Regions from separate parts of the Homo sapiens genome. Here all the other regions are linked to region 1. The links come from fine-mapping of genetic effects on gene expression. A gene starts in region 1. Each other region holds a variant in brackets. All regions are shown on one strand. Distances are between the middles of the regions. Region 1 holds the start of MYO7B (myosin VIIB). Region 2 overlaps MYO7B (myosin VIIB). Region 3 overlaps MYO7B (myosin VIIB). Region 4 overlaps MYO7B (myosin VIIB).

Region 1 (8,136 bases):
AAACCCTGAACTACAGGACAGAATGTGCCCTGTGATCTACTGTCTTGTACTGTGCACAACTGTGTTTCCAGGGAAGCATTTAAGCGTTGCTTCTCTTCCCAGATATTCCCTTGCCCCAGCATCTCAGAAACCAAGGCAACAAAATGGGCAAGGCCTTTCAAACCCTGGGCTAGGGCCAGCAAGTTGGGGAAACACCTTTTTTTTTTTTAAATCTCTGAAGATAGGATGTCTCATGCATCACTGGGGTGAGGAAGGAGGAGGTCTGGTTTGTCTGAGGGTTGGCGTGGTATAATACATCCCAATAAGCCCAGGCCATGGGGTCAGGTACACCCTAATTCAAACCGCACCTCTGCCACTTTTGGTTGTGTGGCCTAAGCAAGTTTCATAACCTCTTTGACTTTAACTTCCTTGCTATGAAATGAGGAGAAGCACCCCTCATTTGTTGAGGTTTGATGAGGGTTGAGTGAGATGGTACAAGCAAAGAGCCCAGCACAGAGAAAATCCTTATCACATGCCAGCTCTTTCTGAGACTGAGAATTCAAAAATGTTCTAAAGAGTAGTTCAGTCGCAGAGGTCTGTGCTGCCAACCTTGCTGTTTCATAGGGTTAATGGATAATTTGGCTGCTGTAGCCTAGATGGGAATATTAGGGCCACCATAAGCAAGTGACTTCAGTTAGCTCTATGATATGCTGGTAGAGCTGAAGCGAAAGGCTTGCTCTGTGTCAGTCGCTGTGATGACGCTATAATGGGCTTGGTCACTGACAGGAATGGAATGAACCATAGGTTGTCCATGGGCGCATTTCAGCTCAGCTCACAAACATGTTTTTCAAGGTTAGCTGAATATTTGCGTCTTGGGAAATGAGCACTACGCTAATTGTGGAAGTAGCACTGGGCTGGGAGACAGCCAAGCCTGGTCGCCCGTGTTACCAGGAAGAGCCTGCCCTGCCTTTCCCCAACCCATCTTCTTGATTTCCAGGGCTTGGGGTCCCTTGGCTATGGAAAGCCTGAGGCTCCAGGAGAACCATGCCTCAGGGTGTCCCCCTTTGCACCAACTCACACAGCAATCAGACCAGGTCCTTGCAATCATAGGCGCAGTTTTGACTGGGAGGGAGGACTTGGCATGCCACTTGAGAAATATTAGCAACCAAAAATTCATGCCCACTGTTCTTCCATAGTGGAAGATCTTCTTCCAGAGATCCCACTGGAATCTTCCATAATGACAAAATGCAAACAACGCTGAGAGCACAGATATGTTCATTGCAGTATTGTGTGTGACAGCAAAGGATTGGGTACCTCCCAGGGTCCATCCAGGGAGGATGGGTATACAAATGATGGGGCACTTGTGTGACATACTGTCACGCTGTTTCTAAAGACCAATGGTAAAAGTTTGGTACAGTGTCAGAAAGTTCTTGTGATATAATGTGTAACATAAAATAGAGAGAGACAGAGAATAGCAGGTCAGTATCTAAAATGTGTTTCTGTCAAATTTTGCATAAGGTGAGAACTGGATGGGAACATCTTACAGATTGTTTTGGTCCACACAGATTTTCTGTCCCAATATTTTCTTACATGAGGGCAGTAGAAAAGGTCCGAAGAGGACTCAGTCTCAGCCCCAGAGCAAGGGGTTCACCATCTCTGGGAGCTGCCAGGAGCAGCAGCGTCAGCCCTAGAGGAGCTAAATGGTATCTTTCTAAACCCGAGAAACCATGTGCAGCATGAAGCTCAAAAAGGCTGAGTGTGGACCCAGAAACCGAACCAAATTTTAGGGAGCAGGAGGCTAGTCAGAGCAAGGGCAGAACTTGGGGGGCTGTTCTAGGGGGAACAGGCGGGACAGGGGGCCGCCTGAAAGACTCGGAACATGCAGCTCCCTCCAAGTGGTCCTTCAAGGGATCTCCCAGCTTGGTTCCCTGTCTTTGGGATGGGCCATTTGGTTTTAAGATACAGAAACTCCTTCAAGCCATGTCAACAAAGAGAACATTTAATAGACGGAAACTGGGGACTCCATGGAGCCCACCCACAGGAGGCACAGGAAACCCTGAGGCATCGGGGGTCTCCTCCTGTCTCTGGAGCCACTGGGTCTCCACCTCTGCAGCTTGTCCACCTCTCCTTTTCTCTCCCACCACCGCTTGGTCTGTGTCCCCACGAAAGGTCCATGTTCAGGGTTGCCACCCTGCCTTGACCTCAGTTCTAAAAGACGATGGCTCATTCCCACATTTCTGCCTGCAGTTCCCAAGTCCCTCCAAGTCCAAGGAAAAGAAAGGAATCTGATTGGCTCTAGTTGGGCCAACTGTAAGGATGACCAGACCCCTTTTTTACCCAACACAAGGCCTGTGGCTGACCAGGTAACTACCTGCCCCTATTATCCACCCGCCTTCAAAGCCTTGCATAAATGAGCTCCCCTCGCCCTCCTGCTCACTTCCAGGGACTGCCTGGCCCCTCCAGTCTGACCCCACCCAGGGCCCACTGCGGTTGCACTTCCCTTCTAAACAGTCTGTATTTGCCTTAAGCCCAAATCCCCCTTGATCAAGTGCCAGCCCAAGCCTGCCCAATTTGTTGCCAGGTACCCTCCTGGGAACCTTGTTGTCTGATGGCCTTTGTCTCTAAGGCTTCCTGATGGCCCCAGACATGTCCCAGGTGTATGCTCCTTTCACACTCAACACAGAACACTCTCTTGACCAGGTGTCCAAGCAGTTCTCCAGCAGACTCCGTCTGGATGTCCTATAATTCAATTCAATCAGACACTGTCAACCTGGAGTCATAGATCCCACAGGTTAAGGGCTCAGTCCCACAAAACTGCCCCACTTCAAATGCAGTCTCAAGTCCTAGGTTGCCACCTATACTTCTGACCAATTGGCTATAAATCGGGGTTCCCATGCCCCACACCTGAGGTTGGATTTGCTAGCATAGCTCATGGAACTCAGGACGGCACTCATATTGACCAGTTCGTGGGAAAAGATTTTACAAAGGATTACAGATGAGCAGCCGAATAAACACGCACAGGTGAGTTGTGTGGGAAGGTCATGGAGCTTCCATGCCCTCTCCCGCATGCCACCCCCCAGGGACCTCAGATGTGTGGAAGCTTGTCAAATCTTGTTCAAGAGTTTTACCTTCCCAGAGGTCAGTAGGCGGGGCTGAAAGTTCCAACCCTCTATTCACTAGGTCTTTCTGGTGACTGACCCCATGCTGAGGCTAGGTAGGGCCCCCACATGGTCACCTCCTCAGCATAACTTCAGGTGTTATCAAACGGACTCATTATGAGATGATCACTTGGGAAATTTTTTGTTTGTTTGTTTGTTTGAGACGGAGTCTCGCTCTGTCACCCAGGCTGGAGTGCAGTGGCCCGATCTTGGCTCACTGCAAGCTCCACCTCCCCGGTTCACGCCATTCTCCTTCCTCAACCTCCAGCTGGGACTACAGGCGCCCGCCACCACGCCCAGCTAATTTTTTTGTGTGTGTGTTTTTAGTAGAGATGGGGTTTCACCGTGTTAGCCAGGATGGTCTTGATCTCCTGACCTTGTGATCCGCCTGCCTCGGCCTCCCAAAATGCTGGGATTACAGGCGTGAGCCACCATGCCCGACGATCACTTTGGAAATTCTAAGGGTTTTAGGAGTTCTGTGACACCAACCGGGAACAAGGACCAAATATACTGTATTTTATATTATACTACCACCCTCAATTAGAGCTTGGGGTGCTTGGGGGCAGAGCTCCTGCCATGCAGCACCTGGGAAGATGCTGAGCCCCCGGATGGTCAGCTGACTGTCACCATGGGATCTGGCTGGTGGCCAGAGCAGGTGCACAGACTGCAAACCCTGGTGGCCTCCGGGCAGCATGCATCGCTGCTCTGCAGAAGGGGCCTGGGTTAAAGAGCAGGTATCATGAGGCTCTGCCAGCTGGGGCTGAGGGAGGCGTGTGGGAGTGGAAGTGCCTGGAGCCCAGGGACAAAGTCCTGTAATAAATTACGTGGGCCCAGAGTGCTCCCAGTCATTTCCTCTTGGAGCCCTACCTCTTCTTCCTCTGTCCCTTACTCCCTGACACACCCGGAGTCCCAACATTGCCTCCTTTCCTGGCTCTTTCAGGGTGCCCAGGGTGGAGGGGAAGGGGAGTCAGCCAGACCCCCATCCTGACAAGGTAAGGGCGTGCCGGGGGCGTGTCTGCCAGCGGGGAGTAGGGGGTCACCTCTCTGAAGAGGGTCGCTGGGCAGGAGGCAGGTCCCCTGGAAATAAGATGGAACAGGTCTGAGGGATAGAGAGTGGAGAAGCCCTTCAGGAGCCTGGAAACCAGAAACCGCAGCAGGGGACTCAGTCCATCGGGCTGAAGGGCAGCACCTGGGGGGCTGAGGAGGAGGAGGAGGGGGAGAAGCTGTCTAGCCCTCTGCTGTAGAAGGGCAAACTCCCTGCAGGAGGGGAACGGCAGGTGCCAAGGCTGCTCCCACCCTGAAGCCTCCTCACAGCTAGAGGGCCTCACTGTGGAATCATGGGACATCATGGATAGCCTGGGTCCCATGATGAGCCCCTGCCAGATGTCAGCTGTGCCGTGTGTGACATCCCACTGCGTCCTCGCAACACAGTGGTGGAATTGCCTCCATTTTATGGACACAGAGACTGAGGACCATGGAAGCGAAGGTGCCCACGGGAAGAAGCAGAGCCGGATTCGACTCCAAAGCCCAGGCTTATCCGCCTTACCCATGTACCTTGGGCAATTGGCTTTAGTCACCTCTGGAAGGCTGGGACCCTAGGGAGAGGCAGGACAGGTCTGGGGTGTGGTGGGGGGGGGGGTGGGGGAAGAGGTGGCTGAGGAGAGGGACCGCACCGGGGCTCACATGGGCTGTCCCCCTTGAGCTGTCCAGGTGGTGTGTGTCCCATCCCCATTTCACAGAGGACGAAACTTGAGACACAGAGATTGTGAGAGCTGGCCCAGGTCAGACAGCTGGTGGGTGTGGGGCCCCCAACCCAGATCCCCCAAATTCTCCATGACGAGGCCTCCCCTTCAGGCTCCACTTTGTAACCCTGGACTTGAATTTTGCTCTAATTTATCAGAACCCTGCACTTTGTTTAGGATTTTAGTTCAGAGATTCACACACACCCTCAGTGAATCATTGTTAGGAACCACTCAGCTCATCAGCCCACCCCATCTCCCTGGACCTGCTGGGGGCCCTACGTCTGTCCTCAGATGCCACCTCTAAGAGAATCCTCCCCAGGCGGCTGTCTTGGGGCCTGCTGCATCCACAGCTCTAGCACGGGGCTCTGTGGAGAGGCGGCACCACAGGGATGACCTATATGTGTTGATATTGCTTCCTGTTTTACATATGTCAAAAGACAAAATTATAAAAAATTTATCTTAAAGATCTTAATTGGCTTTTATTTGCAATTCTAGAATTGGGCAACACCCCACTTATAGAATACAATGAATGATCTGATGAGCCGAGCAGAGGAGTTTGGCTTTATAGACAGAATGGGGCTGAGAGAAACAGAAAACAAAAGGGGATTAGTCATTTCAATTTATTTTCCTTGTAAAGGATAGAGCTGAGGGAACTTCCTTATCATGCCCGCTGAAACTGGCCTGTCTGGGGCTCCAGCTATTGTCTCTCTCCTGATTCTTGGAAGGTCAGATAACCTTCGTTTGGGCCTGGTGGTGTGGAACTTCAGCATGAGTGACTCCATTTTGGTCTGGTCTGTTGGCCTTGTGTAGGAGCTCAGACAAAACCAATGGCCTCCATACATTTTACTTAACACATGTATTTAAATGATGTTTGTGTGCCCATTCTTGGTCCACATACCAAGCTGTTCAGGGAGGAAGAGCCAGAATCTTAGCACATTTTTCACAGAAGAGATGAAGAAGGGTAAAGGAGACTGGGCATGGTGGTGGCTCATGCCTGTAATCCCAGCACTTTGGGAGGCCGAGGTGGGAGGATTGCTTGAGCCCACAACATGGGGAGACTCCATCTCTATAGAAGAATAAGAAGAAGGAATAGGAGGAGGAGGAAGAAGAAGAGGAGGAGGAGGAGGGGGAGGAGAAGGAGAAGGAGGAGGAGGAGAAGGAAGGATTTGACCAAGGCCACTGGACTATGAGCTCCTCGAGAGCCTGGGCTGGGTTTCTCTGGGGTTTTTCCATCTCCTGCACATGCCCAGGCCTCAGCAGAGAATGGACACTTGGCACATGCTGAATGAATGAATGGAGTAGCTAGCGGCAGAAGACGAGCTCAGGATGAAGTCAAGTTTTCAAATCCAGTGTCATTGTAGACTCTGTTGTCTGCCTTTCCAGCAGTGTGTAGTGTGTTCCTTCACTGCCAGCTGGGGAGGCGAGGCTGCGAAGGAAAAGTGACCCATGTACACCAGAGGCACAGACCTCCGGCATTGAGTGGTCAGAGGAGGCGGTCCTGGGGCTGAGGACAGGTAGGGGTGGGAAGGGATGCAGCAGGCTGTGAGGGGAGGATGGTGTGAGGATGAGGGTGGGGAACGGGGGATGTTCCAGGTGGAGGAAGTGGTAGCTGCAAAGATACAGAGCAAAGGAAGTACCAGTAAGGCTTGGGCACTGTTGGCGCCTGGCAGGGATGAAATACGGTTGAGGGGGGTGGTAAGATATGCTCTAGAACGTTCCATGATGATAGAAATGTTCTCTTCTGCACTGTCCAAAACAGTAGCCACTAGCCACAAGTGGCTGTTGAGCACTTGAAGTGTGGCTAGTGCAACTGAGGGTCTGAATTTTTAATTCAGCTCATTTAAATTTAAATAGCCACATGTGGCTAGTGGCTACCATATCGGACAGTGCAACCTAGAGGGTCTTGCTCATCAGGTTAAGAGAGAGGTGAAGTGGAATAAGCAAACGCTTTGGAGCCAAACATTTGCAGATTCAAATCTTGTTTCTTTCTTTTTTTTTTTTTGAGATGGAGTCTGGCTCTGTTGCCCAGGCTGGAGGGCAATGGCATGATCTCGGCTCACTGCAACCTCCACCTCCCAGGTTCAAGCAATTCTTCCCCCTCAGCCTCCCGAGTAGCTGGGATTACAGGCGCACACCACCACGCCCGGCTAATTTTTGTATTTTTGTAGAGATGGGGTTTCACCATGTTGACCAGGCTGGTCTTGAAATCCTGACCTCATGTGATTCACCTTCCTCAGCCTCCCAAAGTGCTGGGATTACAGGCGTGAGCCACTGCACCAGGCTCTGCAGAAATCTTGAGTCAAGAAATCTTGACTCAGTCACCTACCAAATGTGGGGCCTTAAGCCTCAGTTCCCTCTTCTATCAAATGGAGTAGCATCACTTACCTTGCAGGGTTGTTTTACAGATCAAACTAATGAGCAGGTGCTGGAAAACTTTCAGCACAGTGTCTGTCTGAGCTCCTACTCTGTTCTGGGGGCTGGGGGCAGAGTACTGAGGGTATGAAAAGGAACCACAGGGCAGTGGTTCATGCACAAGTATATGTATCTGTCAATTTCTCTTTCATCCCTTGCCTGCCTTATTCAAATACTAAACAAAACAGAGTGATATGAGGCAGCTTACAGTATACCTATAATACAACAGAATCAAAAATAAAATAAGCTGGGACGTAGGATAAATGAAGGTAGGAAAATACACTGCAGCTGGGAAAATGTTAGTAAACAAAATGTACATCAGAAAATCCCATATATTTGCTAGGCATAGACACAAAATTTGTTCTGAACTTCCAGATAGTCACGCACAAAACTATGCAGTAAAGATTAATAATGTTCTCAAGTTAGGCAAAAGCCAGTTTCCAAGGGGAAGACCAGCTTTCCTGTTGCAATGTCATGAAGGGGATAAAAAGGGAGAAAACGACATTGGCTATAACAGGAAATTCAGGAGAGTTTTTAAAGAGCTATTTGTAGAAAAGGAAGGAAGATTTCTCAGGGACTATCTCTACATGAGGGAGGGCACCTCACGGGCTATCTCAGCATGAAGGGGGCTTCTCAAGGACTATCATAAAAAGGAATGAATAAGGACTTCCTTGAGGGCTATTTCTTTTAAAAAAAAAAACTCCATAGTTTTTAAGGTACAGGTGTTTTTTGGTTACATGGATAAGTTCTTCAGTGGTGATTTGTGAGATTTTTTTGCACCTATCACCACAGCAGTGTACACTGCACCCAATGTGTAGTCTTTTGTTGCTCACCCAGCTCCAGCC
Region 2 (5,790 bases), 89 kb after region 1:
AGGGCCCTACTAGCTAAGGGGAAGATCACCGGACCCACTCATTAGCATTACAGTGCGCCAGTTGCTTCCAGCACTCCCCTCCAAGGGCATTTCACTTGGTGACAAGGGCAGTAGTCACACCATGGTTGGCATCCTTGGTGGCATTGCTATTGGGCACATGTGCCACCTCGACCTGCTTTGGCAACTGTGTCATCTGTGAATTCTCGCTGTTTTCTCAGGAAGGGTCATTCAGAACAGCCAGCCAGGGTGGCGAGAGCACACCTGCACCCGGCTCTACACAAAGCTCTGGCCCCAGCCTAACCCCGGCAGGTGCCCGCCCTGTGACCCGAGGTGCCCTATACCAGGAGCTGTGGGTCACTTCCGCTGCACCTTCTTTCTGTTCTCACCCTGCCCCCGAGCCCACAGGGGCTCCCTCCCACGAGCCCTGGAATTGTAGGTGAACTTGCAGTAGCTGTGCATGTTGACACAAGGGAACAATACGTAAAGGCCCCAAAATGTTCCCGAGTCCTGGACTCAGATTCCCAAGAGCTCCTGGTCTTCTGTGAGGTGAAGTCACTGAACCACACCAAGCTCAGGATTCTCATAAAAGCAGCCACTATGGCCTCAGGCTGCCCCCACTGGAGGTCCAGGAGGACCTGGACGCCTGTGGCTAACATTGCTCTTGCCTGGTTGCTGTGCTTCCAGCGGCAAACACCTGTTGGCCTGAATTTTGTTTTCTATGCCAAGCCCATGGCCTGGGGCTTCAGAGGGCCCACCCCTGGGAACCCACGGGATGGCAAGCAGGGCCCATGGGCTGGGGAGAGGAGGGAGGTAGTGGATGGGGGGTTGGCCTCCTGTCCATAGGTTCCAAGAGGCCAGGGAACTGAATCTCATCTGTCCCCAGGCTGTCAAGTCCAAGAAGCACATCCCCATCCAAGTCATCTTGGCCACTGGAGAGAGCCTAACCGTCCCCGTGGACTCAGCCTCCACATCTCGGGAAATGTGCATGCACATCGCTCACAAGCAGGGCCTCAGCGACCACCTGGGCTTCTCCCTCCAGGTCGCCGTGTACGACAAGGTACCAGCCAGGCACCCTGCCCGTCAGCCGCCTCCCTCATACACCCAGGGAGAGCACCCTGAGGCTCAAGCCCTCTCACCTTTCCAGCCCGGCCACCACCTACCCTCCCAGCTGCCAGGCACAGCACTGCTTACCCTCCCAGCCACCAGGCACAGGCAGGTGCACACACACAGAGCAAACAGCCTTTCCTCCCGCACTCATATGGTCACCTTGCAGCTGCGCCTCAGCCCCAGCAGTGCCGCATGCACACCTGGTCCCCCACCCAGCAGCCACGCACAGACATCAGGCACTCACACCAGTCTCCTGCTCCAAACTCCCTCATGCCCAGGAGCTGTGGACACCCCTGCAGCAAACATGGAGGGTCACACCAGCACAGACCCTCACCGCCCACATAGGCACCCCCAATTCCACGCCCACACCCTCAGACTCACACACCAGTCATCCAACCGAGGCGCCGGATGAGTCACATCGGCCAGACTCATGTCTGCCTCCTTAGGGAAGGGGCTGCAGGGAGAGTAATGGGGAGTGGCAGATGGGCCATTGCTGTGTGGAGAAGCCCTTCAGGTGTCCACACGGGCTCAGCAGTGTCCACTCAGCCCACGCTGGGCTCCAAGGGCCCCAGGCCCTGTCTTCTACGTGCACACGCTGACGGTGGGCGTCCCCGTGGGGTGGGGCATGCAACAGCCGCTAACCCCTGCTCCCCGACTCTGGCCTCAGTTCTGGTCCCTGGGCAGCGGGCGCGACCACATGATGGATGCCATCGCCCGGTGTGAGCAGATGGCCCAGGAGAGGGGCGAGAGCCAGCGCCAGTCACCCTGGCGCATCTACTTCCGGAAGGAATTCTTCACCCCCTGGCACGACTCCCGGGAGGACCCTGTCAGCACCGAGCTTATTTACCGCCAAGTCCTCCGAGGAGTCTGGTCTGGCGAGTACAGCTTCGAGAAGGTGAGGGGCCTGAGAGCCAGGTCCACCCTAGGCTTTGCCATCAGGAAACATCCCATAGAGGAGGCACCCAACTGGCTTCTGAGGCCAGGTAGAAGGTGGGGGGGCAGGAAAGGGGGTCACAAGGGTGTAGGTCCCTTCCAGGCCCAGCCTCTGTTTCCTCCTCCCTTAGGCCACAGGTATGTCCAAGCCTCCGGGGTCCGTGGTTCTGGCAGCAGGTCCCAGAGGGCCCAGGCCTTGCCTGGCCTCACCTCTCCTGCTCTGTTTATGGGGCAGTGAGATCTGGTGGCCAAGAACATGGCCTTGGAGCCCTAACACCTAAGTCTGAATCCCACCTCCCCATCTTCTTGGCATTGTGACCTTGGAAAGTCCTGTCACCGCAGAGCCCTGGGCCCTCATCTGACTGGGGGGCTCGGGAGGGGCTCTCACCTGGACCGTGCGGAGTGTACCGGGAGCTCTTTTGTAGGGGATTGTGAGAAAGCAGAGTGATCGTACCCCTGAAGTTCTGGGGGCAGCAGGCACAACCCTCCCTGTGCCAAGTCAGGCAGATGCTGTTCCGGGACCCATTGGAGGCGGCCATAGCAGTGCAGGAAGCCCGCCTGGAAGAGGCATGGGCAGGGGGTGGCAGGGGACCAGGCTCCAAGAGGCTTTGGTCTTCCAGAGGGAAGGGGCTCCTTGGGTGCTGCCCAGCTGGGCCCCAGCAGAAACTCCGCAAGGGGGGCTACTGGTCTCCCTTGACAACCAAGGACTGGAACTCAGATGAGGAAACGCCTTGTCACTCAGAGCAACCCTGCTGGGTCCACCCCAGAACTGGAGAGCAGCCGTTGTCCTCAGGCAGAGGGCCTGTGAGGCTCTGGCCAAGGCCTCTGGGATTCCCAGCCTGCATGGTGGCCCAGTCAGGGCATGCAGGGAGGGGGAAGGTCCTGCCCGAGCCACAGGTTAGC[T/C]CCCCTGTGATGGGGCAAGAGCCCGGCCACGGGACAGGGGCATCCTGGGGAAGGGGGGAGCTCTCACTTGTCTCACTCGCCCCCGTGGGTGCCCTGGGCTGTGCAGGAGGAAGAGCTGGTTGAGCTGCTGGCCCGGCACTGCTACGTGCAGCTCGGCGCCTCAGCAGAGAGCAAGGCTGTCCAGGAGCTGCTGCCCAGCTGCATCCCCCACAAGCTGTACAGGACCAAGCCCCCAGACAGGTGGGCGAGCCTCGTCACTGCCGCCTGCGCCAAGGTCAGCCTGCATGCAGCTCAGGCACCCACCCGAGGGCTCTCCTTTGGGAGGTGGGGGGGCTCATGGTATACAGAGGAGATGGATTCCCTCCCCACAACCCCCACCCCCTGGGGAACAACAAGCCTCAGCTTGACAGTTAAGTAGAGCCCTGTCCCTTCAGGTTTAAGCAGTCCCACTCAGTTCAGCTCTCTGTCACAGGCCCATGCCACCTTCTTCCTTCCAAGCTGGCATCTTGGATGGGTCCCTGTGCTGGTCTGCACTGTGGTGTCTGGCCAGGCCCTCGCTTCTTGGGATGAGAGGGCACCTGCAGTGGCTGACTGCTGACCATACCATGGCCTTGGGGGCCCCCCTGCCTGCCTCTGGGCCTCAGCATCCCCTCGCTGGGTGCATGGGAACCCCCCAGGCCAGAGTGTATGGACATTCTAAACATTCGATACATATCGAATATTTTCAAATCACCCTTCAGATTTGATGCATTTATTACATTCCCAAAGCCAGTATATGAATAGTACCCAGCCACTTTTCTAAGAAATAACGCTGTATTCAACAGTGAAAAGAGAGTTCGGTTGGATATTATAGTCGGTGATGGACACAGCACAGTGGTGCTGGGGAGAGGAACGGGTGAAGGTGGGGAGTTAGGAAAGAGGAAGGAAGGAGACTGGAAGACAAGGAGCTAGAGGTGGTCCCCGAGAGAGGCCCCCAGAGACACAGAAGAGCTCCAGAGAAGAAAGAAGAGAGGCACCCGGGACACAGACTCGGAGCAAGATGCCCTCCTGCACGGAACGAGTCACAATCCTGCAAGGCATAGGCTGGCAAGAGCGAGCCTGGGCTGGGGCACACAGACAGCGCCTTCCACAGCTAGCGCAGCCCCGCCCTACAGATGCTAATGAGGGGACGGGATGGCCTTCCTCCCTCCTCCTAAAGGGTCCCCACACCCCTCCCAGGTAGAATAGGGTGGCGCCAGGCTGGACGTGGTGGCTCATGCCTGTAATCCCAGCAGTTTGGGAAGCCAAGGCAGGTGGATCATCTGAGGTCAGGAGTTTGAGACCAGCCTGGCCAAGGTGGCAAGACCCCCTCTACTAAAAACACAGAAATTAGCCAGGCGCAGTGGCACGCGCCTGTAGTCCCAGCTACTCGGGAGGCTGAGGCAGAAGAATCGCTTGAACTCGGGAGGCGGAGCTTGCGGTGAGCCAAGATCGCACCACTGCACTCCAGCCTGGGTGACAGAGCGAGACTCTGTCTCAAAAAAGAAAAAAAAAGGATAGGGCTGCACCAGTCCCTGGGGACGTCCCAGGTGCCTCCCTACAGGATCCATCTCCAGACACTGGCCTTGTAGAGCCTTCTCAGAAGGATCCATCAACTCTTTTACCCTGAGCACTAGGTGAGGGATTCACTAGGGAAGGCAGGTGACGGAGGTGACATCCAGGATCCCCCCTCAGGCCCCATACACTCAGAAGCAAGTCACACCACTGGCCGTGCGAGAGCAGGTGGTGGACGCCGCCCGCCTGCAGTGGCCGCTGCTCTTCTCCCGGCTCTTCGAAGTCATCACACTCTCAGGTAATGGCATCTGACAGGGGGCAGGGAGCAGGTATGGGCTGGGCACCCAGGGGTCCCATGCAGCCTTCACACTGCCGTCTCTCCTGGCCAGGCCCCCGCCTGCCCAAGACGCAGCTGATCTTGGCTGTTAACTGGAAGGGGCTTTGCTTCCTGGACCAGCAGGAGAAGATGCTGCTGGAACTCTCTTTCCCAGAGGTCATGGGTCTGGCCACCAACAGGTGCGGGCCCTGAGGGAAGATCTCTTCTTACACACTGAGTCCTTGTGATGCATCTGGGGGCTCGGGGAGAGATGGGGAGAGGGGCAGTGTGCCGTCCCGGGTAACAGGCCGGGGTGGAGGGACAAGAATCTACGTATGCGATGGCTTCTGTACTTCGGAGCCCCACCCTCCTGCACCAGGCCGTACTGCCCATGAAGTACTCCATTGGGGCATCACGCGTTGCACTGGCAGCTTCTCTTTGAAACCCAGGTCCACCCGGAAGGGGCAGGGAAGCGTGCAGCCTCTGGCGGGCACTTATTTAGAAGGCTCCTTTCTTTGTCATGGACGAGAACTGGTGGCCTGGAGGGTACAGGTTGTCTGGGAAGGCGACAAGGGACAGTGCCTGGTGTGTCCTGGGGCACAGGGCAGGGCTGGGGGTCCTCTTAGGCTGGGGCTGACCCCCACTCCCATGGGTCTCCATGGATCTCATTGACTGGGAACTTTTCCATGCCCTTTGGGAAGTCCCACCCAAGCCCTGCCAGAGCGCCCCTTGGTTGAAGCACACAACAGAGTGGCACATGCATCTCTGGGCTGTGCCAGGTGTACAGTGGCCACCACTCCCCACTGGCCACCTCTCACTGAGGCTGACCATGCTGGGCACTTTCCTGTATGCCACGAAGTACCGACAGCATCACCCATTCTGCAGATGAGCGGATGAGTAAACTGAAGCACGCCGAGGTTAGGTGGCTCAGAGTAAGCACATGGCAGAGCCGGCAGCTCATCTCAGCTCTGACCTTTGCAGTGTCCCTGCGGTGTCAC
Region 3 (8,136 bases), 81 kb after region 1:
ACCAGTGATTCCTTTTAGAACAGGCTGTAGTGCAGGGCCCTGTAAATGAATGGCTTCCTCATTTATATTATACATTTTGTGCTTTATATACAATTTGCTTTATAGGAATGGGTTTCTATACCAATTAGAAGAAACACGTATAGTCAGCCTGCAAACACTGCAGTTCCCATCCGTGTTGGCTGAATGCGTAGAAGCAGAATCCGAACATGCAGAGACTGATTGTTCACTGCTTTAAGGGACTGACTACTGTGTTTTAGGGGTTCACTTACTTTAGGTTAATACTTTTAACAAAATTTGGGAAACTGTTGGTCATTATTTCTTCACATATTTTTCTACCCCATTCTGTCTCTCTCCTTTCCTTCAAAATCTAATTAAGCCTCTGTAAGATTCTTTTATATTGTTCTTCAGGTACCTAGGGGTCTGCTTATCTTTTCTTTCTTTTTTCTCTGTGTTCTTTAGATTGGATAGTTTCTATTGACCTGTCTTCAAATTTACTGATCTTTTGTCTTCCCTAGTCTGCTGTCATATCCATCCAACAAATGTTTTATTTCAGATATTGTATTTTTCAGTTCTAGAATTTGTATTTGTGTCTTTTTTATATTTCTGTGCCAAGATTTCCTATTTGTTCATTCACTATGAGCATTGTTTCCTTTATATCCTTGAGCAGATTTACAGTAGTTTTTAAATCTTTTCTGCAAATCCAATACCTGGGTCATCTCACGGTCAGTCTCTATTAACTGTCTTTTCTCTTGAGGATGGTGGTGTGTTTGTTTGCTCATATATCTGGTACTTGACTGTTTTTTCCTCATAAGTCTAGTACTTTTGGGTTGTATCCTGGACATTGAGGATGATACGTTAGAGACTCTGGATTCTGTTATACTCTTTCAAAGAGCATTGATTTTTTGTTTTAGGAGGCAACTACCTTGGCTGGACTCAAACTCTGTCTCCTCCATGATGAGCAGAAGCTAGAATCCCTTTTTAGTTATTTTAGCCTTGGCTAGAGTACCTGGAGTCTGCCCCACCATGTGTGTCAGGGGGCAACCAGAGATTTGGGAAGATTTTATGTGCAAAATTTAGGACTCCTCTGATTGTCTTTATTCCAAGATTTCCCTTCTCACTTTCAAGCTACTGTGGGTACCCTAAACTCTCTCCTCTGGTTCTTCAAGCCAGTAAGACTACAGGGCTTCTCAAGTTTTAGCTGCCTGCATGACACTAGCTGGGCAAGTCTTCTGACTTAGCTGGTTCTAATTCTCTCATGGTTAATCCTCACTGGCCACCACACCACACCCTCCAATATGGCAGACACATAAAAGCTATATTCGAATGATGTGTACTTTGGGTTCTTCAGACACCCCCTATAGGCACTCCCATACAGTGCTGGTGTCCAGCAGTGATACTGTCCAACACTGATCCCTTGAGACTTCCTACTGACTCTAGGCTGAAGTGGAACATCCCACAGCCTCTTACTGCTGGGGTCTTCTAGAAAATGGGCTGCCTGCTTGTGTGGGATCCCATCTAGATGCCTGAAGCTCAGCTCCTTCCACGACATCTTTTGGTCAGCAGGAAGCTCATGCCTGCCCAACCATACAGTACATGTACAGCTCCCATCTCCTGTCCTCTCTCCTCCTTGCCCATCAGGATGGGCTCAGAATTCTCCAGGAACAAGCAGGCGCTAATGTCTTTGTTCATGGAGGTCCCTAACTCCAGAGTACAAAAGTCAAGCACTAGCAAGAACTCAATCAACAGGCTCTATTCTAGTACCCTGGGAGGTGGCAAATGGGCTTCTGGAGCTCAGCAGGCATCAGATGGGGAGTGACATGGGTCTCTTCTCTGGCAGCCCCCAGTTCTCCTGGGGTCCCCTTCACCAACCTCATCACTTACAGGGAGTGGAAATGGGCCACAGATCTCTCTATCCCCATGAAGTCCCTTCCAGGAATCACATTCCAAATTTCTTATCTTCCCTTATGCAGGCTGGAGGTGGCTTGGTGGCTGCACTAGTTCTGCCACCTTTTAGTAAATCCTACAAGAATGTGTCTCTTTAGAACGTCGGATATGAGCATCCATTTGTCCTTGGCTGCAGGGCCTTGGTGAAATTCCCAGACAAAGCAGATGCCCTGTTCCACATCTGTCACACATTCCACACACACTTGCTCATTACCCACTCTGGGTCAGGCCCCAGCCTGAGGGCCAGGGACAGAGATGAAGAAGACATGGCTCTGTCCTGGAGGAGCTCACCCTTTAGCTGGGGGGCACGAGAGGACCAGGAAATTCACAATGCCAGTGAATTTCCTGGTCCTAAGATGGACCAGTGCTAAGATGGAGGTCTGTTCAGGGCCCCACAGGTGCACCAAGGAGGAGTGGCCTTAGTGCCTACCTGGGCCAAGGAAGGAGGAGGGGTGTTTGCCAGACAGAGGGAAAGGGTAGACGGGTCACCCGTGACAGACTGCCATGGTTACTACTTGAGACCATTGCTACGATAGTTACTACTGTCACTACTTGAGACCATCGTTATGAGACAGAACAAAGGGGGATGAACGTAGAAATGAAAACTGAAGACAAAAGAAACTTTTAAAGGAAGGGGTCAGGGGAAGAAGAAAAGGGCTCCCTACTCCTAGTGAGCAAAGACAGCCCCCGCCCTGAGCTTCTTCAGCCCTTAGTATTTATTGGGTAGAATGAGCAGGGAGGAGGAGGTAACGATTGGTCAGCTGCTTAATTGATCACAGGTTCATAGTATTACTAACAGGCTTCAGGTGTGCCCTGTAGATAATCACAAGAAACACTTGTGCCTGGGTCGTGACTGCCCTCAGCATTCCTTCTGGGCGGTAGACGCGGTTTGTCAGTTGGCCAACATTCTGCTTTTATGAGAACAGTTTGCTGTTTGCTCATATAGCCTCCAGTGGTATACTAGATCACGACTCTCACTCTTTCGGCCTGCAACATCTCTCCCTTTTTGTTTTGAATTAATTGAGAAAGGCAATTGCAGGCTGTGCAGCCCTTAATTGCCAGTTGGTGGTTTGTTCCGTCTTCGCATTCAGCTGGTACTGGGGGAACCAGGCCCGTGGTTGGGATCCACAGGTCCCTCCAGTCTCCCGTTGCATGGTCGCACACAACTTGAGGGCACCTACATGGTTTGTTCATTTCCTGTGAAAACACAAGCATACCCTCGTTCCCACAATAGTAAATCTCCTGAAACAGAAGCAAAGGCTTTTGTGGCTGCAGCCGGGAGGCATGCCGTTGCTGAAGCATCCGCTCCACAAGCTGCAACTCAGCTTCTGCCTCTTTGGTTAATTACCGCGGGGTAAAACTCCACTGATAGCAAGAGGCAGGCTCTTTCTGATTAACAGAAGGCACAGAGAAAACAAATCAAGAGTTTATCCTTCTCCTGCAATAACAATAAAAAAAAATCCTCAAGCTCTATTACCATGAGAGATCGTATCCATAAGCCCACAAAATCTACTTTCTTCAATTTACACTGCACAAGTGGATCTACTAGATGCTATGGGTTGTGATAGATAAATCTGTCTCCTAGTTGTACTTCCAAATCCCTGACCTCCTCGCTTCTTCTTACGTAGAGAAGGGTACAATTTACAGGGAATAAGCAACAGTTGAGCAACTTATTCTCCCGGTTCAAAAACCCAAAGGCCTTGTGATATCACCACCACCTGAATTTCTCCTTCACAATCCGAATCAACAACTCCTGGGGTTACAATAATGCCCTGTAAATTAAGACAGCTTTTACCTAAAATTAATCCCACATATCCTGTTGGCAAAGGTCCCCAGATACCGGTGGGAATCTTAGTGAGTTTGTCTCCTCCAGTTAACGTAACGCACTCCGACTGGGAGATCCAATCCTGCATTTCCAGGCATTCCTGGAGAGAGGGAATTAATGTGCCTCCGGAGACCCACCCCTGAAGCAGAGCTGTGGCCTGGATGGGGAATGCCCTCATTGTTTGAGGTGCCCAGGTCCAGGCCCCCTTCTCATTTCCCGACAGGGGGGTGCCATTTTGATGAAATTTTGAGTGGCACTGATGAGCCCAATGATTTCCTTTATTGCAATGAGGGCAAAGTCTTGGTGTTTTTCTGTTGGGAGGGGAACCGTGTTATAAGATCCCTTTTGCCCAGAGGTCTGGCGGTGTTCTTTTTTGAAATGTCCAATTTTCCTACATTTATAACATTTTCCCACTTTAGGGCTTAACCCTTGGCTTCTTTTAGATCTGTCAGTTACCAAATTAGCCATTGCCTGAGTCAACATTGCAGAGCAATGAAGCTCAGTTCCCACATCTTGACAAGCTCTGAGAAAACCTCCCAAGTCCTCTGCACATCTCACAGGTACCAGCGCACGTTTACAAGCCACGAAAGACAAAGCTAAAGTTCGCCTTTCTGTAGCTGCAAAAGAAGACGGTACAAGCCAATTTTCATCCTTCCTCTCCCGTTCACCACTTTCGATAGGTGCTGTAGGTGGGGCAAAAAATTCTCTCAAACCCTGAAATGACAAGAAAATGGTATGTACCAAACTCCAAACAAAAAAGAGAAGAGAACCAAATTCTTCCCCATGTTACCCTGATTGAAAAACTTCCCGTTCTTTGTACCTCTAGGACACTGACCAGTACCTTTTTAAAGCACTGACCTTATGCTGCCAGCAGACTTGTAACGGGGTTTTTTTTTTTTTTTTTTTTTTTTTTGAGACGGAGTCTCGCTCTGTCGCCCAGGCCAGACTGCGGACTGCAGTGGCGCCATCTCGGCTCACTGCAAGCTCCGCTTCCCAGGTTCACGCCATTCTCCTGCCTCAGCCTCCCGAGTAGCTGGGACTACAGGCGCCCGCCACCGCGCCCGGCTAATTTTTTGTATTTTTAGTAGAGACGGGGTTTCACCTTGTTAGCCAGGATGGTCTCGATCTCCTGACCTCATGATCCACCCGCCTCGGCCTCCCAAAGTGCTGGGATTACAGGCGTGAGCCACCGCGCCCGGCCTTGTAACGGGGTTTCTTATTCATCTGGTTGGTTTTAGTTTTTTCTGGGCTTTAGTTTTTTTTTTTTTTGCTCCAGCAGACCTTCCTCGCTCAAGTCCTTATAGGACCCTATTGTCCCTATCTGTTCCTGTCTGTCCCTGCAAGTTTCTCCTAGTCTTTGCTAGTCCTTGCTAGTCTTTGTCTATCCCTATCTGTCCCTATAGTCCCTGTTAGTTCCCGCAAGTCCCTGTCTTTCCCTAGCTCTCTCTATTTGTCTCTATTTCTATTTATCCCTACTTATCTCTATTTGTCCCTGCAGGCCTCTTCAGGTCCCTTCAGGTCTGTTTGTCCCTGATTGTCCCTGTTACGTCCCTGTCCAGGCAGCACTTGCAGCAATTTGCCACTGTTACTACTTGAGATCGTCATTACGGGAGTTACTACTGTCACTACTTGAGACCGTCATTACGAGACGGAACGAAGGGGGATGAACGTAGAAATGAAAACTTAAAACAAAAGAAACTGTTTTAAAGGGGCCAGGGGAAGAAAAAGGGCTCCCTACTCCTAGTAAGCAAAGACAGCCCCCACCCCAAGCTTCTTCAGCCCTTAGTATTTATTGGGTAGAATAAGCAGGGAGGAGGAGGTAACGATTGGTCAGCTGCTTAACTGATCACAGGTTCATATTATTACTAACAGGCTTCAGGTGTGCCCTGTAGATAATCACAAGAAACACTTGTGCCTGGGTCGTGACTGCCCTCAGCATTCCTTCTGGGCGGCAGACGCAGTTTGTCAGTTTGCCAACATTCTGCTTTTATGAGAACAGTTTGCTGTTTGCTCATATAGCCTCCAGTGGTATACTGAGCTGATCACGACCCTCACTCTTTCGGCCTGCATCAGTCACCCTTGAGACAGCCCACAGGGTCTGGAATTTATGAGTGGTTTGCCATTGTTGGGGCATGGAGCTTGGATTCCATCCTAAGGGAAGTGGGGAAAGTTTTAAGCAAGAGAGGATCTTGATCATATTTGACTTCCAGAAAGACCTCCCTGGCGATGTGGCAGGATGGAGCCTGGGGCTGGGAGGCCAGGCAGGGCTGCTACAGAGATCCAGAGAGAGCTGATGAGGAATTGCCCAAGGAACAGGAGCCAAGAGGAGGGGACAGAGGAAACATGCAGGAGACAGATGGTAGCATGTGGGCACTGGTTGGATCGTGGGGGCTGGTTGGATTGTGGTGGCTGGTTGGGTTGTGGGGGCTGGCTGAATGGTGGGCGCTGGTTGGATTGTGGGGGCTGGTTGGGTTGTGGGGGCTGGTTGGGTTGTGGGGGCTGGTTGGATGGTAGAGGCTGGTTGGATTGTGGTGGCCAGCTGGATTGT[G/C]GGGGCCGGTTGGGTTGTGGTGGCTGGTTGGGTTGTGGTGGCCAGCTGGATGGTGGTGGCTGGCTGGGTGGTGGGGGGTGGTTGGGTTGTGGGGGCTGGTTGGGTTGTGGCCAGTTGGATGGTGGTGGCTGGCTGGGTGGTGGGGGGTGGTTGGGTTGTGGGGGCTGGTTGGGTTGTGGGGGCTGGATGGTGGGGGCCGGCTGGGTGGTGGGCGCCAGCTGAGTAGTGGGTGCCGGCTGGGTGGTGGGGGCTGGATGGATGGTGGGGGCTGGTTGGATTGGAGGAATGAAGGGATGGGAGGGCTCCAGGATGACCCCCAGATTTCCAGTTTGGGTGAATGGCTGATGGCGATGCCTGTAGACCACAGAAAGAGGAGGGATGCAGGAACTCAGAGAGCCAGCCATGCACATTGCTTCCCATCTCTGTTCGGTGATGTCGTGTCGCAGTTGACATTGGCTTTGGTGGGAACATGTACACCACAGAAATAAGCAAATGCTGTGAATTGGGCTTTTCTTCTTGGGGGAGCTGGTTGATAAACATTTACCAGCACACCACTGAGTATTAGGGGAAAGATGCTGGCCTCTGGAGATGTGGCATTTGAGGTGTTAATGGGCCACTTTTATAACATGATAGAGGCTTGAGTCCATGGGGAAGGACGCAGGAGAGAACCGCCCCCAACACACCCCCACCAGGAGTGGGGAGGCTCCACAGACCGTGGGAGTAGGAATGGTCAGGAGATGGGGTTGAGTGGCTCCCATGAAGTCCTCACTTTTCTCTCTGCTGTGGAGGGGAGGGGCTGCATTCAGGGAGGGAGGTGGGGCCTCAAGGCAGAGAGAGAAATGACTGTAATCACCGTGAGACTGGGGATCCCGCACATCTGGGAGCAGATGGGCTGTGCAAAGGGCGCGGCTGCTGAGGACAGGGCTGTGGCTGGAGAACCTGCTGCTTCCTGAAGCCGAGCCCCACCCTAAAGGACCGAGAGCACAGGCCATGGGAGAGGAATCGAGTAGGGATGCAGAGCCTGGTGGCACTGTCCTGAGAGAGGAGGAGGCTGGGCAGGGCCCCGGCGCTGGAGAGGTGCCCTGCATATGGGACCTCTCAGAGGTGCACAAGAGCTGTGTGCCCAGGTACCCCTGTCTCCTCTCCTCCTCCAGCCCCCAGCCTACTCTCCTAATGGTCTGTGTCTTTCAGGGATGAGATTTACTGCCAGATCTGCAAGCAGCTCTCGGAGAACTTCAAAACAAGCAGCCTGGCCCGGGGCTGGATCCTGCTCAGCCTCTGCCTCGGCTGCTTCCCACCCTCAGAGAGGTTCATGAAGGTGAGAGGGTTCATGAAGGGAGGGCGGGCAGGGGGCAGGTTCTGGTGGGAGCGTAGGTGGCCCCTGGCCCTGGAGCAGGTCCACAGATTCCAGTACGTGGCCCATTTCTCCTGCTCCTGCAGGCCAGATGGGCAGCCATGCCTATGCTTCTCCAGGACTCAGTTTCCCCATCTGGAAAAGAGGACCCTGCTCCTGGCTCCTTCCAGCCCCTACGCAGGGTCTGCAGGGCCATTTCACTTTGGCTCAGGTGTCAGGATGGTGCTTCAAGACTAAAATGAGAAGGTAGATGACACGGGCCTTGAAAAGACAGGTGTCCAGGAGTGGGCCCTGCCTGGAGATGTGCCACGGCACCTCTTTCTAGTTCTTAGGACTGAAAATGGAGCTGGGTTGGCCGAGTGTTAGTGGCCCCAAGCTTCACTGATTTAATATGCCTTTAAATTCTGATTATAAAAGTAATATGTGGAAATGCAGAACATCTAAAACCAAAATAAAAGTCACCCC
Region 4 (8,136 bases), 42 kb after region 1:
CTGAGCCCGGCATTTAAGGCTCTGTGCCACCTGGCCCTACCTACTAACTAGTTCTGTCTACCTTCCACTGCTTTCCTCCTGCATCCCACACTCTGACAAGATTTCTGCGTCTGCAAGCACACTCCATGCTTTTTCTGACCTCCGAGGTTTTCCCTGCATTTTTGTCTTCCTCTTAGCGGGCGCTTGGCTTCCGTCACTGTCTGGTGCAGCCGTGCCCATTCTTCAATTCGAGGCTTGGCCACCTCCTCTGAGAAGCCCTCTTACATGATCCCACTCAAATTACATTTTCTCCTCTCTGCTCCCATCATGGGCATCGCCCGCTTACCTTCAGCCTTTGGAAATGCCAAGACAATCCGCAACGACAACTCAAGCCGCTTTGGGAAGTACATTGACATCTACTTTAACCCCAGCGGGGTGATCGAGGGCGCGCGCATCGAGCAATTTCTCCTGGAGAAGTCCCGGGTCTGCCGGCAGGTGAGGCCTCCCCCTTCCCAGGTCGGGAGTTGAGGGAATGGGGGAGGTTTCCAAGAGGGGCCCCTTTCCCACTCTCACCTCTCCTCCCCTCTTCCCCAAGGGCCCTCCCAGAACCCACAGGCCTCACTGGATAATGAGGGCCCTTCCCCAGTATTCCAGGACAGCAAATGATAGAAATTTTTCCATTTTGAGCAGGGCTTGGTGGCGCACGCCTCTAATCCCAGCACTTATGGGAGGCCAAAGCGGGTGGGTTACTTGAGGCCAGGAGTTTGAGATCAGCCTGGCCAACATGACAAAACCCTGCCTCTACAAAAAATATGAAAAAAAAAATTAGCTAGGCAGTGGCACACGCCTGTAATCCCAGCTACTTGGGAAGCTGAGGCATGAGAATTGCTTGAGCCTAGGAGGCAGAGGTTGCAGTGAGCTGAGATTGCACCACTGCACTCCAGCCTGGGCAACAGAGTGAAACTCTGTCTCAAAAAAGACTTTTCTCCATTTTGAATTTTCCATTCACATACATTTCTTCTTTCTTTGGTGCCTACCATTCCTCATCCCTACTAGAATTAATTCTGAGACTAGGCTAGTTGGGTGGGCCGTATCTTCAGGTATGTTAGGGGACATGGCAGAAAGACACAGATGACAGTATCCCAAATACCACATGGCCAGGAAGTACAGTGGCATGTGGCCTGTGTTGTCACACCAGGCCCTGTGCTCAGGGGGCCCCATGCTTGGTTTCATGCTCTGCTATTGCCACCTTGAAATTCTTACTAGCTTTTTAGCAAGAGGGCCCATGGTTTCCTTTTGCACTGGGCGATCATGTAGCCAGTCCCAAATGGTAGGAATCCCAACACATGGCACCCACAACAGCAGAATTAATGCACCTGTGTGTGTGTGTGAGTGTAAGGGGGTGCTCTCGTATGATGGCATAACACCTAACACATGCATGTGTGCAAATGAGTGCACACACACAGAAGGGGTCCAGAGGGGAGAATGCCACCAACAGAGGGGCTGTGGCTGTGTGAGAGGGACAGATGCCTCCGCACTGTGACAAGCTGAGAAGGAAGGTCACATTTAGTGACCCTCCGACCTGGTGCTATACTTTTCCTGTTTTATCTCATTTGACCTTCACAACCATGAGAGGTAGGTCTCTTTATCCCTATTGTACAGATGAGAAAACTGAGTCCAGTTAAGTTCGGCCCCTTGTCCAGGGTCACAGAGCCAGCAGATGGCAGAGTCTCTCTGCCCTGTCTGGAAGCTCCTATTTCTTGATATAGTGGTTGCTGAGTTCATAGAACTTGTCACCCAAAATGATACCCTGAAATGGGCAGGAAATTTCTAAAGCAGGTGAGAAACAAGGCCTGCCCAAGAAAAGAGAAAGAATTTAAAATTACGGCATATCTATACTACAGAGGAGGCGGTCTGTCCATGTCAATGTAAAGGATCACCAAGAGATATGTTTAGGTGAAAAAAAAGGAAGTAGCAGAACCACAAATATGTTTTGTGTAAAAAAAAAGAAACAAAGAAAAGAAAAGAGATAACTATTTATAGATATACTATAAGTAAATGTTTTTTTAAAAACATGTCTAGGTTCTGGGGCGGGGAGGAGGGGATTTAAGAAAGGGGAAGGCAGGATGGAAAGGAGCTCTCATTTTTTTGTTTTTGATCCTCCCACCTCAGCCTTTTGAGTAGCTGAGACTAGAGGTGTTTACCACCACATCCAGCTAATTTTCTTATTTTTTGTAGAGGTGAGGTCTCACTATATTGCCCAGGCTGCTCTCAAACTCCTGAGCTCAAGTAATCTTCCCGCCTCAGCCTCCCAAAACTGCTGGGATTACAGCCCAACTGAGACTCCCATCTTTTAACACTACTGCATATGCTTCAGATTGTTTGATTTGTATGAGAATGCATTTATAAATAGTGTTTTAAAAAATACAGAAGGCACCCTAGGCAACATGGCAAAACCCCATCTCTACAAAAAATACAAAACTTAGCCGGACGTGGTGGTGTGTGCCTGTGATCTTAGCTACTTGGTAGGCTGAGGTGGGAGGATGGCTTGAATCCAGGACTTCGAGGCTACAGTGGGCTGAGATTGCACCACTGCACTCTAGCTTGGGTGACAGAGCAAGACCTTCTCTCGGAAAAAAAAAAAATACTGAAGGCCTAGGGAGCCCCGTGGCTGTCAGATCTCTCGTGGGCCACTAAGTGCCTGTGAAGACTGTGGGACTATAAGAGAGCCCCGACTCTGTGCCATCACTCCTGGCCTGGAGACTTTGGGCACAGCAGTGTCAGGGCTTCGAGGAGCAGTCAAGATGCAGGGAAATGGAGTTCTCAGGGCAGGGATGAGACAGCCGCGGAGGCCCGGGACAGGGACAGCAACCAAGCCAGGCTGGCCCTGGGTCAGTGCCAGAGCTGCTCCTGGCTGAGAGATGTGGAGCGGAGGCCAGGGCTGGGCTGGGCAGAGGCAGTCTGAGGCCCTGAGGCCTCAGGGGAATGGCTCATGAATCTGTCTGGAATGCCCTCCCTCCCTCCCAGGCTCCCGAGGAGCGGAACTACCATATCTTCTACTGCATGCTCATGGGGGTGAGTGCTGAGGACAAGCAGCTGCTGAGCCTGGGCACGCCCTCCGAGTACCACTACCTGACCATGGTGAGCTGCCCACCTGCCGCCTCCCAGTAGCCAGTGGAAGGGAGGAAAAAGAGCTTGTGCCGCTCCACCCTCCGCGACAGCTGCAGAGAAGCCCAACGCTGGCCGGGCCCCTGAGGCGGGGCTGGTTCCCTTTGCCTCTCCTCGCCAGCCCCTCTCTGCTGGGAATCACCTTGCCCGCGTGCCTCCCGCTTCCCCGTCACATGTACCCCATGCCCCAGGCTGGACCCGGGGCCTCCCCGCAGACCTCATCTTCCTTTGGTCCCCACTGGATGACAGGCTCCCGGTGCCCAGTGGGCCACAGGGAGTTGCCCACATGCCTCCTGCTCCTGATTTCACTCCAATTGTCTGTCCTTGCAGGCCCCCTAAAACGTAAGCCCCGGGCCCCAGGAAAGCAAAGCCCTTCCTGTGCTCCCAGCTGCACCCGCCACCTAGGACAGGGCGGCACCACAGCCATCGCTCATTAGCTGAGGCTCCCTGGCCCTCAGGAGAACTGCGCCTCCTGGTTTATTGACCACAGAGTGGACCCAGAGCATTCTGCCTCTGGGATCTCTCCCATGCAACCCTCT[C/G]TCCTGGGTCCACTGCTCCAAGGCCTTCACCAGCCCCTGCCTAGACTTCATGGGTCCCCCATCGCCAGTCTTGACCTCTAATCTGTCATCTACCCTGCAGCCAAAGCACTCTTCCTGTAGGAAGGTTTGCACTGTAGTGTCATGCTTTGGATGGCACTGCTGCAGTGACCCCTGCGGCTTGTAGGGTAGAAGTCCAAACTCCTCCATGTGGTTTCCAGGTCCCTCCAAGATCTGCCCCTCTGCCGACCTCTCCCTTCTCAACACCCACCCCAGCCTCCCCGCAGCCCTGTCCCTGCCTCCCCACCTCGTGGCCTTGCTCCCATCATCCTCTGCCTAAACTGCCCTCTGTCCTCAGAGGCGGTGGGGCCAGCTCTGCACCTCCTCCAAGAAGCCTTTCTCCACCTCTCGATAGGGCTGGCCCCGGCCCCTGTGGTCTGGGCACCTGTAACAGGCAAATGGCCATGGCACGGTCACTGGCTCCCTGCCTGCCCCCCTGGATGCGCAGCACAGGGCCTGGCCCATGGCGAGCCATGGAAAGTGTTTCTTAAAGGAACAAACCCACAGTGTCCCCCAGAGAGACAAGGCAAGCTCGAGTAGGGACGAACGACAAATAGAGGATCAGAGAAGAAGTGTGACTTGGCCAAGGTCACACAGTGGCCAAATGCTGGTGCTGGTGGCAAGGCCTGATCATGCTGTGGCTACTGTGTCATGATTCTGCCTCTGAAAAGAGTTTTTGAGCGTGGACCCTACGTGGTCCACCCATTGCCTATGAAGTGCAGTGTCTCAGCCTTGCTGGTCCCAGGAGGGAGGTGGTGGGGCAGGGGATGGCCCCATTCACTGAGGCACCCTGTCCCTCAGGGGAACTGCACTTCCTGTGAGGGGCTCAACGACGCCAAGGACTACGCCCACATCCGCTCGGCCATGAAGATCCTCCAGTTCTCCGACTCCGAGAGCTGGGACGTCATCAAGCTGCTGGCTGCCATTCTCCACCTGGGGAATGTGGGGTTCATGGGTAATGCCGGTTCTGCCCCAACTGCACCCTTGGGGAGGGAGAGGGAAGGGGACAGGAGCAGGAAGGCATCTCTAGGGGTTCTCACAGGAAGGATCCTGTGGTCCAACCCAGGCCTGGAAAAATATATCTAAAAAATTCAGCTGTGATTTTGGAGGCCTCGTGAGGCAAAGGGGAAAATGTCAAAGCTTAAGGCTCTCCACAGGTGGAGACCGGCCAATCATCCCCCACTTTTAGCTGGGACCCAAAAGGGCTTCCCCCTTAAGGTTCAGGTAAGCCAGAGTAAACAAATCCACGTGTGAACTTGCAAACCAGGTTGTGAGCAAGGGGTGGTCTGGGGATTAAGTTGTCCTGACCTGTGAACACCCCCAAGCACCTAACGGCAGTTATTGACAGTCCTCGCTGGAAAAAAGCACCAGCAAGTTAGATTACAAATGATTCCTGTGAGTAGTTTTTCAAACACAACATCCAGCATGAAGCCAGGAAGAAATAGGAACAAGGAAATGAGATACCATGAACAAGAACCGGCAGAAATAATAAACAGTAGAAATCGATCCACAAAGATTTCAAAGTTGGAATTATTAGACACAGACTAGAGAAGTTCTGCTTATTTTGCTCAAGAAAAGAAGCAGCCAAGCTTGAAAATTTAGACAGCGAATGGGAAACTTTAAAGACATTATAGATTTATAAACAAACCACATAGAAATTCCATTCTAAAATTAAAAAAAAAAATAACCAAAAGGAAGAACCCAATGGATGGTTTAAGGGATTCTGTGCCTGTCTAGGAGATGGAATGTGTGAGCTGGAGGGAAAGTCAGGAGAAACTGAGTACAGCATGGAGAGAGGAATGGCGGGAGATGTCAGAGAGAAGGTGGAGACTGGGAGGACACCGTGGCAGAGGGAGCACACCTTTCATTGGAGTCCTAAAGGAAAGGAGAGAGAAAGGGGCAGAGGCAATATTTGAAGAGATAGGGCTGGTTCCAGAACTAAGGAGAGACCATTCTCAAAGCAATGGGAAGGGATAGACTTTTCATAAACTGTTCTAGAGCAATGGGGTGTCCATATAGAAAACAAAAGCTTGGGCCACCATCTCACGCCATGTGAGAATATTGCTTCCAGGCAAGCTGCAGCTGGGCTGATCTGTCGTCTATCAGCCAGACTGCACACTTCGGCCAGGGAAAGGTGGGTGCTAACCAGAGGTGGGCACCGGGGCCTGGGACAGCATCAGAAACATGATGCTGAGGAAGTGAAGCAGGCACAAGAGAATGCAGACAGATCCACTAACATAACATTTGTTTGTTTGTTTGTTTGTTTGTTTTTGAGACAGGGTCTTGCTTTGTTGTCCAGGCTGGAGTGCAGTGGTGGGATCTCGACTCACTGCAAACTCCACCTCCCAGGTTCAAGCGATTCTCCCACCTCAGCCTCCTGAGTAGCTGGGATTACAGGGGTCTGCCACCACAGCCTGGCTAATTTTGTATTTTTAGTAAAGATGGGGTTTCACCATATTGGTCAGGCTGGTCTCGAACTCCCAACCTCAGGTGATCCTTCTGCTTCAGCCTCCCAAAGTGCTGGGATTACAGACACAAGCCACTGCGCCTGGCCCACTAACATAACATTTAAAAGCCGGCACATTAAATGCTGTTTAGGGACTCTATGTAGGGAATAAAAAGCTAGGAAGTTAGAAGTCGGGAGGGTGCTTACCTCCGGAGGAGAGGGACACAGTCTCAGCCCGCAAGGACCTCGGAGGGCTGTGGGTGCTGGCAGATCCTAGATTTGGCTTTAGCGTGGTTACGTGGTGCTGACTTTATTCTTTACAACACAGCTTTGTGTTTTATGCACTTCTTTATCTGTATATTTTATCTCCAATTTTTTTCAGTTTAAAAAAGAAAAAAAGCAAAAACAAAGACACCCAAAGGTCCCGTCCCCCACCAGCCTGGCACGTCCTAAGCTGGACGTTGGTTGAAGAGGAGGAACTGGAAGCTGGGAGGCCAGTCAGGAGACGGTTGCAATAGAGCCAGGCCTGGCTTACAGCTGGAGCTCCATTAGTGCTTTGCTTCCTGTGACTGAATAAATAACGAAATGTCCGGGTTTCCACACCCAGCAGCATGGACTGAGGGGCCTGATGGCTCATCTCTCCAGTGCCAGTGTCTGCTGTGTTTCCCAAGTCAGACTTCTCCCTCCAAATAAGCCCACCTTTCTTTAAACTTCCCTTCGACCCAGGGCCCTGGTCTCCTCAAGAGGAAGTGGTCTGCCACGTTCATCAACAGCTAAGGTGTGAATGACCCATGGTCATGGGGCCGTTGGCTCCCTCAAAGAGAGGACACTGGGAGAGACCGTGGCTTACGCCAGGGCAGCTGTCCTCCTGAGTGGATCTGGGGCTGCCAAGGGCCCGGGCCAGTCGGGACCTTGCTCCCATCGCTCCAGGCTGCTTTCCAACTCAGCATTCCTGCTTCTCTCTCTAGCTTCGGTCTTCGAGAACCTGGACGCCTCAGACGTGATGGAGACGCCCGCCTTTCCCACCGTGATGAAGTTACTGGAGGTAGGGGTGCTGTGCCCACAGCTTCCATTTTGGTGGGGGGCCTCAGAGGCCTGGGCTGACAGACCCCTGACACCTGATTCTTATAACCCTACCCAGGCCCCCACCCCTTTCCCAGGGCCTATGCTCAAACCCCTCCCTTCTGTATACTGCAGGTGCCTGAGGGTGGGCGCAGAGTGGGGCAGTGCCAAACAGAGCGGCGGAATGGCCAGTTTGGCTTTAATGAATGTTTCCTCCCTTTCCCTCCATTTCCTCCTGCTTGTCAGTGGCCCTGTTTCAGTATCCTCGCCCTCCACCCTGTCAGGTCCCTAGGCTCCCCACTTGGACCCCAACCCACCCATCAGACTAGCCCTGCCCTGTGCCCTCACCCCGCAGGGCTTCTCCGGGGCTTGCACTATTCTGGGAGAGTGGAATGTGCCAGTGAGTCTGGGGCCCATCCCATTAGCCTTCCCGGTTGTTCCCCAGTCCAAATGCAGCCTTGGCTTAAAGGAAGGGCTGCAGGCCCTGAGTGAGGGGCTACCTCTGCAATGGGGACATGGCAGCACCCCACGTCACCCCCATTGACAGTTCTGGTGGAAAATTAATAGAATCAGGAGCAAGAAATAAATACATAAAGCAAGCAATCACATTAGGTACCTTTTGCTATTAACATTCTTCTTTTGGTTCGAGGGTACTCAGAAACTCTGGGTTTTGTCAGCTCCAGTGGAGGGCTGGCCCAGCACACTCTCTTGCTCCTTTAGACTCTCAGCCTTCAGGCGGGACTGATTTCAGTCAGGACATGCCTGAGGTCTGGCCTCAGATCCCTCCCTCACCCTCATTTTCCAAGGCCAGGCTGGGGGAGCCAGCCCCTTTCTCAGCCCCCAGGAGACCCACTGAGGGCTTGACCCACCGAGCTGGAGAATCCT

What was found. PIP is the estimated chance that this variant, and not a neighbour inherited with it, causes the effect.
Region 2: its variant is the best candidate, but not a certain one, in a credible set for the expression of MYO7B in whole blood (INTERVAL, PIP 0.65).
Region 3: its variant is the best candidate, but not a certain one, in a credible set for the expression of MYO7B in whole blood (INTERVAL, PIP 0.50).
Region 4: its variant is the best candidate, but not a certain one, in a credible set for the expression of MYO7B in subcutaneous fat (GTEx, PIP 0.74).

The regions. Positions count from the first base shown.
Region 1 is chr2:127,531,703-127,539,838 of GRCh38, forward strand. It overlaps MYO7B (myosin VIIB), which reads left to right and starts at 3,981. Exons shown (of 48, transcript NM_001393586.1): 1 at 3,981-4,129. RefSeq lists an enhancer at 4,013-4,863.
Region 2 is chr2:127,622,319-127,628,108 of GRCh38, forward strand. It overlaps MYO7B (myosin VIIB), which reads left to right. Exons shown (of 48, transcript NM_001393586.1): 29 at 884-1,057; 30 at 1,775-2,002; 31 at 3,050-3,217; 32 at 4,657-4,774; 33 at 4,866-4,992. It overlaps MYO7B-AS1 (MYO7B antisense RNA 1), which reads right to left. Exons shown (of 3, transcript XR_923314.3): 3 at 3,679-5,790. Among named protein-coding and RNA genes, the nearest start is that of MYO7B-AS1, 5.6 kb to the right of the region's middle. The variant T/C (reference allele first, on the strand shown) is at 2,944.
Region 3 is chr2:127,612,832-127,620,967 of GRCh38, forward strand. MYO7B (myosin VIIB) reads left to right here. Exons shown (of 48, transcript NM_001393586.1): 27 at 7,509-7,635. Among named protein-coding and RNA genes, the nearest start is that of MYO7B-AS1, 14 kb to the right of the region's middle. RefSeq lists an enhancer at 7,368-7,417. The variant G/C (reference allele first, on the strand shown) is at 6,318.
Region 4 is chr2:127,573,589-127,581,724 of GRCh38, forward strand. MYO7B (myosin VIIB) reads left to right here. Exons shown (of 48, transcript NM_001393586.1): 7 at 332-474; 8 at 3,007-3,120; 9 at 4,545-4,698; 10 at 7,158-7,234. Among named protein-coding and RNA genes, the nearest start is that of MYO7B, 42 kb to the left of the region's middle. RefSeq lists enhancers at 4,016-4,569, 4,618-4,667. The variant C/G (reference allele first, on the strand shown) is at 3,687.